Linked DNA regions of Homo sapiens. The protein of the gene in region 1 interacts with the protein of each later gene in a biochemical or structural test. Each region holds a gene or a part of one and is shown in the gene's direction. Other genes may lie near its edges.

Region 1 (3,824 bases):
CTTGCAGGCCCAGTTATAGGTTATGTGCAAGCGGAGGCCGAGAAGGGGGTAACAAACACAAGTAGGAGGATGCAGAGAGGGGCTTTGAAGATCATGTTTTTAAGTATCACACACCTGAAATTACCCCCAGAGAGCAGCAATTCAGTGCATGGGCTTTGAGATTAGACTCCTAGAGCTCAAGTCTCATCTACTTAGGTAGGTAGGAGTAAAGTTGCTTAACTACTATGTGCCTCATGGTACTCATTTGTAAGTGGGGGTTAATAATGTTACCCACCTCATAGAGTTTTGTGAGGAATAAATGAGAACATACAAGTGCCTGCTACTACGAAGAACTCTATAAAAGTTTTCTGCAAAATGTGGTAATAGTAATCATAATAATTATAGTAATCGTTTCAACTATCTTTTGAGCACAGCAAAGAGCATTGCCAATTTGAAATCCCCAAAGCCCCAAAAAACCACGTTTTTCTAAAAGTTTGGCACACACTTTTTTGGTGACAGAACCTGACCTGAATGAATGTGAAACTATTTATGGTCTTTACTTATTGCACTTGCTGTGAATATTCATACGTTTCCCTGTGGAAAATATTGCTGTATTTGATTCTGGGTTCTGTTCCAGACTGTGCTGGGAGGGATATATAAATAGCACTGTATTCTGTTCTGAAATCCTGAAAATTCTGACTTCTAAAACACATACGACTGCCAGGGTTTCAGATAAGGAACTGTGAATCTGTATCATCTCACTCAATCCTCAGACTAACTCTTGATATCGATATTATCATCCCAACCTTGCTGCCATGAAAACCAAGATTTATCAATAGTTTGAATAATTTGCTCAAAATCCCACTGTTCATAAGAGATGGAATTGGAATTTTGGTCTAGAATTGTCTGACAACACTTTGAAGAGTCAGACACATTTGTAAACTTTCCTATCTCTTATTTATGTCTATTTTTTCAGCATTTGCATAATTTCAATTTTTTATTTTCTAAAGAGCCATAGTTGATGTTTCCAGGAAATAGAAGCATTTTCATAACCTGATGATTTTCTATTACCTAGAGGTTTTCTAAATAAGGGACTCCTTTAATAATGATGGTAGTAAGAATAATTGTTATTATTCCTATTTTAAGTCAGCTATAATTTATCGAGCACTTCTGTGTGCCAAACATTTAGCAAAGCACTTGGCACACATTATCTCATATAATCCTTACATCAACCCAATGAGGTAGGTGTTATTATTCTCTGTTTTATTAGAAGAAGACTGCAACTTAAAGACATTAAGGAATTGCCAGCTGCACACAGATTGTAAGTAACAGAGCAGGAATTTGAATCCAGTAGATAGATTGCAGGCACTGTATTCTTTTTTTTAAAGCTCCTCCTTTGTTTTATAATGATTAAAATAACACATACATATACACATGGCAAAAACTACAAACAGTAAAAAAAATTATGCAATCTTCTATCCCAGAATATAATGTAAAAATATCACCTCTCACAGTCACCACCACCTACTTTCTTCTGTATCATGCAGAAATTTGTCTTTGCACGTGGGCACGTGCGCGCACACACACACACACACACACACACAGAGTTGGTGTTTAATACCGATGTGAATATACACATTGGTCTATAGCTTACCTTTTTCATATAGCACCATATTGTAGAAAATTTCCATAACAGCACATAGAAATCTAAATAATTGTTTTACATCTACTTAATAGTGTATGGATGTAACAAATTTATTGAAGCAGACTCCTATGGATGAATATTTAGATCGTTTCCAATTTATGGCTCTTGCGAATGTGCTGCAAGTGAATATTTTTACAAAATACTTTTTCATAGAGGTTCAAGCATATTTCTAAAATAAATTTTCAAGCAGTGGAAAATTTATGCTGGGTGAAAAGGACATTGAAGTTTAAAAAACTGGAAAATATTGACAAATTTCCCCCCAAAAATATTTGTTTCCCCAACAGTGTGTATTATTAAACTTTTTAAACCCTCACACATTTGAAGATGAAAACTGTAATGTTTTAGTTTCAATTTAAATTTAATTATTGGCAAAGGTGAGCACATTTTTCTGTTTACAAAACACGGTTATATTTCTAACATTGACTATTCCTTTCCTTTATCCCTTTTTCCATAGCTTCTCAAATATTTTCTTATTGGTTTTCAGGAGCTCTTTATACATTAATGAGATGAGTCTGTCCTCTATGTTGCAGATATTTTTCTGAATTTTTAATTTGTCATTTAATTTTATATATATATATATATATATATATATACTCTAAAGAAGTTGTAAACTTTTATGTAGTTAAATGTTTCAATCTTTTCTTAGAGCCCACACTCCTAACCATTACGCCAAACTGCCTCTCTAATTTCCAGAATGATGACATTCATTCCAGTTTTGTTGTCACTTTTGTTCAGGTGTTTTAACAGAACAAGTGGCAGGTCCTCTGGGACAGAACCTGGAAGTGGAACCATACTCGCAATACAGCAATGTTCAGTTTCCCCAAGTTCAACCACAGATTTCCTCGTCATCCTATTATTCCAACCTGGGTTTCTACCCCCAGCAGCCTGAAGAGTGGTACTCTCCTGGAATATATGAACTCAGGCGTATGCCAGCTGAGACTCTCTACCAGGGAGAAACTGAGGTAGCAGAGATGCCTGTAACAAAGAAGCCCCGCATGGGCGCGTCAGCAGGGAGGATCAAAGGGGATGAGCTGTGTGTTGTTTGTGGAGACAGAGCCTCTGGATACCACTATAATGCACTGACCTGTGAGGGGTGTAAAGGTAAGCATCTTTGATTGGCAGTTTTCTCCTTCAGGTTTTACTATATTGGTTGTTGAAATCCCTTGAACTAATTGCTTCCCTTTTCCCAGGCAACTTCCCATTTTCTCCTCCTGTGCGCCTACCTCCTCCTACATCCTCACCTTTGTTGTGTAGTCAAAGATCTGTAGGAAAAGACTGTTAGAGTATTTAGCTTAATGTTTAAGACTGTTAGAGTATCTAGCTTAGAGTGTTTAGCTTTCTTCCTTTTCACAACCTCACACGTAGCTAAAGGGAACTTATGATTAAATTGAATTTTTTGTAGGTTTTGTTTGTTTTTGTTGTTTTTTTAAAAAAGAAAGAAGAAAGTGATGAACACATCTCTTTTAAAATTAAGATCTAGAAGAATACAACTTTATTCAATAAATATTTAAAAATATTTTTCATGTACTTTAGTTAATTGAGAAAGAGAGAAAGAAAGAGCCAAGTAATAATAGCTTATATTACAAAAAAATATTTTAACTTGGCATGGTGGCTCATGCCTGTAATCCCAGCACTTTGGGAGGCCGAGGCAGGCAGATCACCTGAGATCAGGAGTTCAAGACCAGCCTGGCCAACACGGTGAAATCTCGTCTCTACTAAAAATACAAAAATTAGCTGGGTGTGGTGGCAGGTGCCTGTAATTCCAGCTACTCAGGAGGCTGAGGCAGGAGAATCGCTTGAACCTGGGAGGTGGAGGTTGCAGTGAGCCAAGATCGCACCATTGCACTCCAGCCTGGGCAACAAGAGCGAAAATCCATCTCAAAAAATAATTTTTTTTTTTTTTATTTAGCCTAGGCATGGTGGCTCATGCCTGTAGTTCCAGCACTTTGGGAGGCTGAGGTGGGTGGATCGCTTGAGTCCAGGAGTTCGAGACTAGATAGAGCAACATGGGAAAACCCCATCTCTACAAAAAATACAAAAATTAGTCAGGTGTGGTGGAGCACGCATGTTGTCCCAGCTACTTGGGAGGCAGAGGTGGGAGGATCACCTGAGCCCGGGAGGTTGAGGCTGCAGTGAGCCG
Region 2 (3,824 bases), on another chromosome or scaffold:
CTACTGCATATCAAGCATTATACTGGGCTCTGTAGCTTCAGAAGTTTTTAAGGCAGAGTCACTTCACTTTGGGTATGCAGCCCCATGAGTGAAGTAGACATGTGAACAATCATAGTTCAGGATGGTCGATGCCAAAGAAGAGTTATTAAACGCTATAAGGACACGGAGATGGGTGTGTCTGCTCAAAGAATCAGGGAAGGTGTTGCGAAGGGGTGACATTTGAGATGTGTCCTAAAAGATACAGGAATTTGCCAGTGAAATGGAGAGAAGGGCCTTTCAGGTAAAGACACGTTTTCAGGGAATGTATTAATAACTGAATGTGGCTGGAGCATAGAATGTGTGTGAAAGCATGGCCAGAGATGAGACTAGGAAGACCATGTTAGGAACCTGGTTGTGAAGGACCTTGCTAAGGAGTTTGGACTGAATCCTTAGCTGAGAGAGGCATTCAAGATCTTCGAGAAGGGGAGTATGTGGTGGAGGTTTAATTTCTAGGAGATAAATGGATGTTCTTTGGAAGGAGGGTAGACTGAAGACCAGAGAGGTAATGAGGATCTGAACTAAGGCAGAGACTGTGGGCACTGAGCAGAGTTAGAAGTAATGAGGATCTGAACTAAGGCAGAGACTGTGGGCACTGAGCAGAGTTAGAAGTAATGAGGATCTGAACTAAGGCAGAGGCTGTGGGCATTGAGTGGAGTTAGAATTTGCAGGTGTTGATTATTGACATTGTGAGTGGCTTAGGGGGAGTTTTTTAAATTTCTGGTTTGGGGTGGTGTCTGTCAAAGAGGTTTAAAAAAGTGAAAGGAAGTCTGGGCGTGTTGGCTCACGCCTGTAATCCCAGCACTTTGGGAGGCCGAGGCGGGCGGATCACGAGGTCAGGAGATCGAGACCATCCTGGCTAACATGGTGAAACCCCATCTCTACTAAAAATACAAAAAATTAGCCGGGCGTGGTGGCGGGCGCCTGTAGTCGCAGCTACTCGGGAGGCTGAGGCAGGAGAATGGTGTGAACCCGGGAGGCGGAGCTTGCAGTGAGCCGAGATCGCACCACTGCACTCCAGCCCAGGCAACAGAGCGTGACTCCGTCTCAAAAAAAAAAAAAAAAGTGAAAGGAAAATGAGGGGAGAATTCTCATTGATAATAAGGGCGAAAAGGTTTTTTTGGCAGAGTAATAGAGTTTTGGAAACCATTGCAAAGCTGTCAAGTGTGGTGTAGTTTTTGGTTAAGGAAATCAGAGGTGTCAGCAGACATAAAAGACAGGGGAAAACATGGGAAGTGTCCTACCTATAGTGTAGAAAAAGCACAACTATCTATGTCAGAGGTCGACAGACTGTGGTCCATAGGTCAAATCTGGCCCACGATCTGTTTTTGTAAATAACGTTTTATTGGAACATAGCCACACTCATTTATTTATATATTGTCCATATCTTCTTTTGTGGTACCAATAGCAGAGTTGAGTAGTCGTGACAGAGATGTGTTGTGTCAGCTCACAAAGCTGGAAATACTCTTTACAAAAACATTTGCCAACCCCTGATCTATGTGTTTGAGTGTTGGATGTTCAACCTCTAATTTGCCATCCAATGTCTATATGATGATAGAGAATGAATAAACGTCTTGGCTCTGCCCTTTGGGCTGGATTACCCATGCTCTGTGTACCTGCAGCATAACACAGACCCCTGAATATTTATATCAGTCAGTGATGGCAAGGTCTATTGTTCTGGAGTGTACTGTGTGGTAACTGTGGTAGTGCCAGCTTTACACGGATTAGATAATGCTCGGGCTTGTTTTGCCATTTTTTTTATTGGGTTGTCTTTTACAAAAGATTTATTTATATATTCTGATTATTAATCCTTTGTTGTTGGTAGATATTACAGATGTCATTTCCCAGTTTCTTGCTTATTTTAATTTTTTTTTTTTTTTTTTTGAGATGAAGTCTTGCTCTGTCGCCCAGGCTGGAGTGCAGTCGTGCCATCTCAGCTCATTGTAACCTCCGTCTCCCAGGTTCAAGTGATTCTCTTGCCTCAGCCTCCCAAGTAGCTGGGACTACAGGCATGTGCCACCACACCTGGCTGATTTTTGTGTTTTTAGTAGGGATGGGGTTTCATCATGTTGGCCAGGCTGGTCTCAAACTCCTGACCTCAAGTGATCCACCCGTCTTGGCCTCCTAAAGTGCTGGGATTACAGGTGTGAGCCACTGCGCCTGGCCTGTTGCTTATTTTAAAACATCTGTTTTAAGGTGTCATTTGTTAAAAAGTTCTGAATTTTAGTATCAACTTTATCAATCTTTTCCTTTAAGATTTGCAGTTATTCTTTGTTTTGAGGCAGGGTCTCGCTCTGTCACCGAGGCTGGAGTGCAGTGGTGCGATCTCGGCTCACTGCAGCCTCAACCTCCTGGGCTCAAGCAACCCTCCCACCTCCCATGCCAGTTGAGACCACAGGCATGCGCCACCATGCCCTGCTACTTTTTGCATTTTTTGTAGAGGCGGGGTTTCGCCATGTTGCCCAGGCTAGTCTGGAACTCCTGAGCTCAAGCAGTCCACAAAGTGCTGGGATTACAGGTGTGAGCTACTGTGCCCAGCCTGCAATTATTCTTTATATTCTGGAATACCTACTGTTGTTTTCAATGGTTAGATCTTTAATGTATCTGGAATGGATTCTTATGTGTAGTGTAAGGTCGGGTCCAGTTTCATTTTTTTTCCCTATGTATAACCAGTGATCCCAGCATCATTTATTGAATGGGGCTTGCTTTCAAATTGTGAGCTCTTTTTGGTGGAGTCTGTCTCAGGTCCTTATTAAGCACTGCTGCTTGCTGATTGTGTGACCTTGGACAAATAAAACCTCATTGCGCCTCAGTCTTTAAGGATAATAGTAATCTCATAGGGTTTTGTGAGGATTAAATGAGTCAATATACATAACGTGTAAAACAGTGCTTGGCACCTAGAACATGCTCAATAAATATTAGCTGTACTTTAGCACTACTGTTCATTTCTGATTCCTCAGCACCTGGTACAGAGCAGGGGCTCATTTTGCTCAATTAAATTGCCAAATTAATTTGGTTTTCAGGTCAATCAGAATGGTGAGAGTTGGGCTGAGTGTTGCAGGAGATGCTTCCAAGGAGCTACTTAGTTTTAGGGGCTGCCTTAGATTATCTGCTAGGATAGAACTCTTCTCACGCCATCACTTTTGCAGAGAACTTCTGTAGCAGAGGTTGCAAACTGGCAACCTGTGGTTGGATTTGACCTGTATAAGTATTTTGTTTGGTTTACACAATATTTTTAATGTCTTAAAAATGTACACAGACCTCTGAGTTTCTGACTTAACCTTGAAAAATTGGAAGATCTGTCAACAGCAAGCCCATATTCATTTATAGCGGTAACCAGCTGAAACTTTTAGGTGAGATGTGTTTCCTAGTTCTCCATAGTCTGCCTTGCTGTCTTGCTTTGCTCTTTATTTTTATGGCCCTGCAGACATTTAATTTTCTGATTCTTACTTTATTGAGGTATTGAATATTGTCTCCCCCAAACCAGTAAATGACATATTGGGATGGTGGGGGGGATGGCCAGAAATTGACAGATGAGTTTGTGGGCAAGTAAATACTAAAACCTATTTCTAAGGATGAGCCATACTTGATCATAATGAATAGAATGATAAATGAAATTAAAAGATGAGGTGAAATTCAGCTTAGCTCCTTGAATATTTAGGCATCTACTATGTATTAAGTACTGTATTAGAAATTACCACATTGGTGATAGAAAATTAGCTGGCCAGCTTTATGAAATACTGTAGAAGAACTCTTTTTACTTGTATTGTGGAGCTGTTGTCTAAGAG

What was found.
Region 2: the proteins of NR1H4 (region 1) and NCOA6 form a complex in vitro, tested with the Homo sapiens proteins (one study listed by BioGRID).

Annotation. Positions count from the first base shown.
Region 1 is NC_000012.12:100,508,359-100,512,182, forward strand, and holds part of NR1H4 (bile acid receptor), read left to right. Parts: intron 1-2,419; coding exon 2,420-2,785; intron 2,786-3,824. UniProt on the Homo sapiens protein: Ligand-activated transcription factor. Receptor for bile acids (BAs) such as chenodeoxycholic acid (CDCA), lithocholic acid, deoxycholic acid (DCA) and allocholic acid (ACA).
Region 2 is NC_000020.11:34,818,867-34,822,690, reverse strand, and holds part of NCOA6 (nuclear receptor coactivator 6), read left to right. Parts: intron 1-1,051; exon of another isoform or gene 1,052-3,389; intron 3,390-3,824. UniProt on the Homo sapiens protein: Nuclear receptor coactivator that directly binds nuclear receptors and stimulates the transcriptional activities in a hormone-dependent fashion. Coactivates expression in an agonist- and AF2-dependent manner.